Regions from separate parts of the Homo sapiens genome. Here region 1 is linked to region 2. The links come from fine-mapping of genetic effects on gene expression. Tissue or cell type: cerebellum. Region 2 holds a variant in brackets; the other region holds the start of a gene. All regions are shown on one strand. Distances are from middle to middle.

Region 1 (4,234 bases), 24 kb before region 2:
AGCTAAAGTACTGAGAGATAATGATATGAAATATTTGCACCCAAAATACACTCATAATCTATTATTCCAGTTCCCTCTATAACCACTTTTTCACCCACCCTACAAAGTTCTCCAGCAGAACCTGCATATTTGCAAAGTGTTCTCCTATGTTGACATTGTATTATAAATGACTGAGAAAAATTTCAGAGACAACTTGGAAAGAGAATGGAAGCATTTTTGCTCACCTTTTCCCATTCAGCTTATCTGTATTAAATGGTGATAATCAGTAACTATTTACTAAGCTTTCAAAAAGTGATTGGCACATATAGTCCTTATTCAGCAAGATTTAAAGGACAAGGTATAATTTGAGAACATAAAGTGTAACACAAAGCTCCCAAATGTTCATGCCATAACATGACGTATGACAAGAGATACTCAAGAGTGAGCACCTTGGGAGAGAAGTATTCTATTGCCCTCCATAAAAAATGGGAGCACGGTCCTCAGCAGTGGCTTTGAGCTTAGATGGAAACAGAAAATTATAATTTCCATCTACACCCCTTTAATGGCTCCCCATATTCACCACCCCCATTCTCTTTCATCCAGCCAATTTGAAAGATGAGATAAGAGTGAGAAGAGACAGAGAACCTGAATGAGAATGAATTTCGACAGGTGAGGGTGTGGCACACAAGTTATTTTCAGGACCTCATGCTATTGTATTCTTGGAAAAGTTAAGTGGACAGCCAAATGTTATGCTTTACCAGAAAGGAGCTAGGAGTTCAAACTTCATAGAAAAATTAAAATCCATTGGGAAGAAACCTTGACATTAATGAAAAACATATATAATATTATAGTCATCGATCCTCATAAACACAATGGCCCCATTTGATAGATTTTTACTTCTCTCATTTTGGATCTCCACTGAACTCTAAGTCACATTCAATCATTGAAATGGCTTAATAATCAGTGGCTTAAAACTTGGGGTATTTATTATAGAAGTGACCAGTATATAATGACCAATCATTACCATATGAAATTACAATCCTTTTCAGTATCATGCAATGTTAAGTGGGAAAAGTTCAAGAAAATATTCTAAAGATATGTTCTCTTGCATAAATATTCCTATTACAAATGTGTGTCAAAGACCACTATAAAACTAAAATTCACTTCTTTCTCATACATGTTCATCTGTCAGTGTTTAAAATTCTATTGGCTAACAATTAAAGTGTATACTTTGTCTGGATTCTCACTCAGAAAAAACCTACATAAAGACATAGTTTCTGAGACACAAGGAATTTAAAATGAACTGGATATTATATGACTCCAGAGGATTATAGCCAATGTGTTAGGTGTGATAATGGCACAGGGTCATGTGAAAAAGTGTCCATACTTTAAAAATATACATACTAAAGTACAAATAGGTGAAATGAGATTTGCTTTAAAATATTTTAGCAAAGAATTGAATCTGACAATTGTTGAATCTTGGTAATGAGTTTCTGGAGGTTCATGTATTATTTTTGTATTATTTTTCAGAGTTTTGTGTAAGTTTGAAATGTTCCATAATAATTTTTTAAAATTTAAAAACATTATATTGTCTAGATACACTCATAAAGAACTCAGGCAGGGAAAAAACGTTTAAATTTAAAATTTAAATTTTAAACTGAAGTGCAGTTTTAAAAATTTGAATTTTAAATTTAAAAACTGAAGTGCAAAAATTATGAAATTGACATTTAAAAATCTATTCTTTTATACAGCTAATATGGATTTCATCTAACTTAAGGAAAAGCTTTAATGAAGACCCTGTTAAAAGTTTGTATCAAATGAGGACTTATAATGCTTTACTCCAAAGCAACAAAACGCATATGCCCAAAAGATGTATAAAAACAGGCATACATTTAGGAAAAAAAAAAAAGGCAGCCTTTTCTCTGCTACAAATATTTAAAACTCACAGTATACTCTTTCTATCTCAAAGACTTTTAAAAATTATTTTCCATCTTTAGGGAAAACCATATGAGAAAATAACTCAGCAACATGTCTGTGAATAATGCCTAGCAAAGCTTAAAAAAAAAAAAAAAAAAAAAAAAAAGCTTCTAGCCAAAAAGACTAACAGGAAAAAATGAACATTTTCAAAAGCATTTTGGAACCTTATTCCAGCTACCTCCATGCTAAGCCCTCTTTTTCCTCCCAAAATACGTCACTTAACTGTCTGTCAAATAACTCTTGCCCATTCTACCTGATCACACTCTGAAGCTGCAGCTTTTCCTGGATTCTCTTCTCAATGACAAGCTGTTCAAACAGAGAACACCTATCAAAACGAATATCATCATCTGCTCCTTTCTTTCTTCCTTTCAGGATATACTGCTGTCCAGCAGGGGAAGTAATTAATGAGTTTTTTATGTATGGCAGCGTCATCCCATCAGTTTGCTGTCTGGTTTGAATAGCTCCTATCAGCTCTTCATTCATGCCAAGTACGCTCACCGTCCAGAGACATGATAAAGCCGTACTTCCTTCTGGATTTTTACCTCACTATTCAAAAAACAGGGTACCAGAAGCATGGGTTACAAAAGCATGAGGAGGACAGAAGAAATGCCTTCATCTTCTACAGAAAGGAAGCTGATGGACTGAAAAGTTCGTATGGAGAAAGGAAAGCAAGAGTGCAAGAACATCCATGCTTCTAGTCCAGATAATGTTTTTTAAAGCAGCTTGATTTGGAAGCGTGTGTAATTCTGAAATACGAACAAGCAGAACTTTTCCAGGGGGTCAAATGCATATAGGAACAACCAGGATTTCTCATTGCTGAAGCATTCAATGAATCTTTAATAAGTTCTCAACACTCAGATTGTTTGTGATCAGATCAACTGCTGTTACCAGATAAAGGCAAAACTCACCCTTCTGGTTCTATAATCCTATCCAAATGGAGTCTTCATCTACCGCATACTATCCTAACTAATGCTACAGGATTATCAGGAATACAGATATAAAGACACTGCAAGAAATAAAACACTGGCAAAATAAAACATGAAAGGAAAGTAGAGAAGGCATTTTGGGTCTCGAAGCTTACTATTTCCAGCCAGAGTTCAAATTACTGAGCTTCAAACAAACCACTGCCAGGTAAGATTTAATTTTATAACCTTAATTTATATCTTGTCTACTGAAATTAAATCTGCTCGTGCTGTGAATGAGATAGTGGATTTGAATTTCTTGCAACCCTTCCTTAAGCTTTTGCAGATTTAAGCTGAGGTAAACGCTTGTTTTTACTTATGCTGCATAAACAAGTCACTCAGAACTAGATAATAAAGCATCCAAAACTCCCATTCATTTTTCATTGAATTTGTCTCATCTTTGTCTTTATTTTTATCCCAATTTTGTTTTATTTAATAGCTTGAAAAAAATGCATGAAGAGAGCCCTGAATGGTGCATAAGAGCCATTCACAGATAATGTTTACCAACAATATTCAAATGAACTTAGTTTCCCAGAGTACTTGATAAAACAAAGAAAAATTAATAAGCATTTTAAATATTTTTATTCATATAAAGGAACAAAAGCTCAATGACTGATTTCTATTGTTACTAAGAAAAAAAAGCTGTGATGTCATTTCATTCATACTAAAGAAAAATAATCTCTACTAAATCGAGGTATAACACTCTTGTAGGATAGGGCTAATTTATCCTAAAGATACTAGACATTTTTATAACAGACTAAATGAAGACATTTTTCTGATTCAACAAGAGGATAAAAAGATGAAAGATGTCTGGTACCTTAAAACCTCAAAAGCTTTGACTCAGGTCAGTGGTCCAAACTGTAAAATGCAAAGCACTAGTGAAGCCATCAAAGGATTTTAAAAGATACAGTGCCTTTAAGAAATTCCCTAGAAATCACTGCATAATGAGACTTCTAGAGTGACAATCTTATGTAAAAACAACAAAACGTTATCATTTAGCAGAAATCCCAACCACATTGGTTTTCATGAGTTTCATTGGAAAACTTAGGTCCAAAGCACCTTATCATAAAGAAGTCCTACAACAAATAATATTTATATTATCTTAGAAGAGAGGAGACAGGGAAACAAGAGCATATCACACCTAACTACGGAGATCTTGTGGTAATATACATAAAGTTATCAGAAGTAAGTATTCAATACTTGTCTAAAAGTAGTCAAATTAGAAATTCTCTTCCATTTCACTGAATTCTTTCCTTTTTTCAAATTTTAGTTAAGGGAGTAAATTATATGATCCCTTCAGGCTTTTCAAGACAGTC
Region 2 (4,234 bases):
ATCCCAGCTACTCAGGAGGCTGAGGCAGGAGAATCACTTGAACCTGGGAGGCAGAGGTTGCAGTGAGCCGAGATTGCATCGTTGCAATCCAGACTGGGCAACAGGGTGAGACTCCGTCTCAAAAAAAAACAAAACAAAACAAAAAAAACTTAGCCAGGCGTTGAGGTGCGTGCCTATAGTCCCAGCTACTCAGGAGGCTAAGGCAGGAGAATCGCTAGAACCTGGGAGGCAGAGGCTGCAGTGAGCCGAGATCACGCCACTGCCCTCCAGCATGGGCGACAGAGTGAGACCCTGTCTGAAAAAAAAAAGAAAAGAAAAGAATGTAGTACCCAGATGATTTGATGATGCAGCCAGTTGTCTAACTGAAGAGTAACTGGAATATAAGTCATTTGATAACCAGAAGAGTATCTGGAATACAACTTAAACTCAGAAAAGATTCACTAACGTTCTCTCATTAAGCCATGTCCAGTATAACTAGCTTAAATTATCTAATAATAAACATTTAAAAATAAACAGTCCTTCATGTGAACTTGAAAGTACAGTCTCTGCTAGCGATCCTATGGCTCGGCTCTGGGGGCCTGGGACCGGAAAGATAACCACAGCAGCCAAAAATGGTGATAGTGAAAACAATGGCTGCTCTGGGGACCGAAACCTACCACCATCAAATCAAGTATCATTTTGATGACTTTAATTTGCCGTAAGACGAATTTTTAAAAGGAACAGACTAAATTGGATGAAAGCTGGATACCTCTGGAAATAACAAAATTCAACAGGTTAAATTACCTAACAACAGATTTTAATATAATAGAAGCACTGAACAAATCAAAGGCAGAACTAATGAAAATACAGATAAAACTAAAATCAGAAGATTTTTCCAAACAAACCTCCCTCTGATTAGTACAAAATGTCCCTCTGGCAACTGATGAGTAGAAAAAAATGATGTAAAACCAGATCCATTCATATGAAAGGCTTCCCAATGGATGCAACTCCTGATGACATAATTATTTTATGTCTAATCTTTTAAAGATTAGAAGATAAAGGACAAGCACTAAATATTCAAATGAGAAAAACATTACACAAAGCATTTAAGCAATCAACACGTGCAGTGTTTGACGGTATTAAATCCAATAAAAAGTTTATAGAGACCCTGGCCCTGAACCCTGGTATAAAAATACAGACCTTCTAACACTTTTCAAGGAGGATTATTTTGCAAAACAAGAATGAAGCAAAACAAAGTATAAACTAAATTCAGAGCTAAGCAAGAGCAAGAAGAAAAATGGAAGTGCTGCAAAAGATAAATGCTTGAGAGGATGGATACCCAATTTTCCATGATGTGATTATTATGCATGGCATACCTGTACCAAAATATCTCATATACCCAGTAAATATATATATCTACTACGGACCCACAAAAATAAACTTTAAAAAAAAAAAAACAGAAGTGCTGAGGATGCTCAAATGAAATGTCTAGATTGAATGTTTGCTGAAATTTTGGGATGACTTAGATAATGTGACCTGTAGAAAGCACCCACATATCCTTTTCTCAAATCATGGGGAAATAAAATGGATACACTTTATCAGTAGAGCAAAAGAGAGATTAATTCTATGTAAGAAAAAAGCTAAAGAAACACTAAATAAAGCAGAAGCAGCCAGCAATTGTAACCTATGACTAAGAAACAAGGAAGAGATGTGGAAATTACTAGACAGAAAGGTAGAAAAAGAAACACTGAAAAAAACTCATGCAAAATCACCAAGAATCTCTAAACAAATGAGAATCAAAAGGTCATAGATTTAAAGGAAAAAGAAAGGGAAATAAAGCTGCCTAGGCTGGATCTGCTAAAGGAAATGCACAACTTCAGGGCAGGAAAATGATAGTTCAGGATGATGAAAATGATGCAGCTGGACCAGCAAAAACAAAGAATTGCTTCAAAACAACAGAAAACACAAAATGGCGCTGGAGACTAGCAGTTTAGCACACAAATTCTGCTCTTATCTTTTGAAGGTTTTTAAAAAGAAAATCAGGCC[G/A]GGCGCGATGGTTCACGCCTGTAATCCCAGCACTCTGGGAGGCCAAGGCAGGGGGATCACGAAGTCAGAAGATTTGAGACCATCCTGGCTAACAAGGTGAAACCCCGTCTCTACTAAAAAAATACAAAACAGTTAGCTGGGCGTGGTGGCGGGCACCTGTAGTCCCAGCTACTCGGGAGGCTGAGGGAGGAGAATGGCGTCAGCCCGGGGGGCGGAGCTTGCAGTGAGCCGAGATTGCGCCACTGCACTCCAGCCTGCGCGACAGATCAGGACTCCGTCTCAAAAAAAAAGAAAAAAGAAAATCAAATTAGGCCCAATATTCAATATTCAGCTACAAGGAAAAGTTTTTTTGTTATCGGAGTTTTCCTTGTTTTTATTTTTTTGGTTATCCAATTGAAAATTTTTTTAGCCCTGTCAGCCAGAACAAATTTTTTAATTTATAGTTCTGTTTGTGTTATTTCAGATGTTTTAAATATCAAAGGGAAGAATCTTCTTCTACTATATTGCCTTTGTAATATGAGACTATATTGGCACAAACTATATACCATACAAGAAGAGGGAAAAAAATGAGCTGAATCAATGAGGACAAATAAAACTGTCTTGTTGCCTCATGGAAAGAAAAGGTTCGAGGTTTAATTTAAAAGTACAGGCTGCTAGAGTAATATCCTTTCTTTTCCCTTCAGTCTAATTGTTGGCACAAGGAACAGAGGAGGGAAGAAATTCCAATGTCATTACAATTAAAATTTCCTACCCAAAATAGCTTTTCATAAAATTAAATTGAAGAAAATATATAATAGTTTTAAGCAAAAATATGCACAGACAACAACTATACTGACCAAACTGCAGTCTGGTTATTTCGTTTTTATTTGTATCTCTAAAAATAGTGTTTACAGACTTGCACATAATATTTTCCCCACGTTTTCTTCAATATTGATCCAGTGCATTCTGCTCACACTGTTAAACATTTTTCTAACTCTGGCTATCTGTGACATCTTGAAAGGAACAGACAATGCATATTGCATGAATTCAATGATTTGACTTTTGGGGAAAAAAAATGAAGGGCAGAAGAAATTTCTCATAGATCTTACTTTTTACGTTTGAAGGTAAGAGTGGGGTGCCATTTTCAAAGCTCTTGAAACGTAACTTAGAACTGCCAAGAATACTGTTCAAAAAGAAAAGCCAAAGGCATGATTATCTCTTTCAGAGACTAACAGAAAGAGTTCTACAAAGACACCTAAAGACTCACAATCTTACCAGAAAAAGTATGACTTTGAACAACCGTCCCCTTTCCCATATCCACCACTAATAAAAATGAGAGTGTCACTGTCAGTGGTCAGAAACAAACAGAGCAGGCAATGCCCGTGTGGCACAAGTGGAAGGAGGCAGGCTGGAAAGGGCTGCCTCTCCAAAAATGGTTCCCACCTCTATGGTGGTAACAGAAATTTTACCATTAGAAATCCACTTTTAAAGAGTTTTATTCCTTTTATAAAGAGATCTGTAAAATAAAAAATTGATAATACATATGAGCTTATAGAATAATTATTAAACCAACATAAATAACAATCATCCAGGCCAGGAAATAGAATACTGCCAACACCACACCTGCTACCGGGCCCTCCTCAATCATTACACCTCATCTCCCCACTAGAGGTGACCGCAATCATGATATCTGGAATAATCATTTCCTTGATTGTCACTTTAGTATTTAAATATACATCCTTAAAAAATAGGGTTTTTTTTTCCTGTGTTTGAACTTTATATAATAGAATCATACTAACGAATTCTGTGGGCATGTTTCTTTTACTTCATGCTATGTTGAAAAGATTCATCCACTTATTTAAGTATTCATTCCACTATTAATGAATATTTGCGTTGCTTCCATCTGAGGCTCTTCTGAACATACAGCTGTGAACATTTGGGCACACACGTGCTGGAGTTTCTCTAGAACAGGGGGTCCCCCACCCCCAGACCATGGATCAGTACCGGTCTGTGGCTTGTTAGGAACCGGGCTGCATAGCAGGAGGTGAGTGGTGGGCAAGTGAGCAGATTCTTCTCTATTTACAGCCACTCCCTACTGCTTGCATTAGTGCCTGAGCGCCACCTCCTGTCAGATCAGCAGCAGCATTCGATTCTCATAGGAGCCAAACCCTATTGTGAACTGCACATGCAAGGGATCCAGGTTGCACGCTCCTTATGAGAATCTAAGGCC

Direction of the effects. Positions count from the first base shown, and alleles are read on the strand shown. Sizes are in standard deviations (SD) of each study's normalised expression.
With allele G in place of A in region 2, the expression in cerebellum of the gene that starts at base 2,434 in region 1 is higher (moderate effect, 0.57 SD a copy in GTEx).

The links. PIP is the estimated chance that this variant, and not a neighbour inherited with it, causes the effect. A credible set is the group of variants that fine-mapping cannot tell apart.
Region 1: it holds the start of CHRM5, and the variant in region 2 is the best candidate, but not a certain one, in a credible set for the expression of CHRM5 in cerebellum (GTEx, PIP 0.86).

What each region holds. Positions count from the first base shown.
Region 1 is chr15:33,966,064-33,970,297 of GRCh38, forward strand. It overlaps CHRM5 (cholinergic receptor muscarinic 5), which reads left to right and starts at 2,434. Exons shown (of 3, transcript NM_012125.4): 1 at 2,434-3,087. All of the region lies in intron 2 of AVEN (apoptosis and caspase activation inhibitor), which reads right to left.
Region 2 is chr15:33,990,084-33,994,317 of GRCh38, forward strand. The region is part of intron 2 of AVEN (apoptosis and caspase activation inhibitor); the gene reads right to left. All of the region lies in intron 1 of CHRM5 (cholinergic receptor muscarinic 5), which reads left to right. Among named protein-coding and RNA genes, the nearest start is that of CHRM5, 24 kb to the left of the region's middle. The variant G/A (reference allele first, on the strand shown) is at 2,026.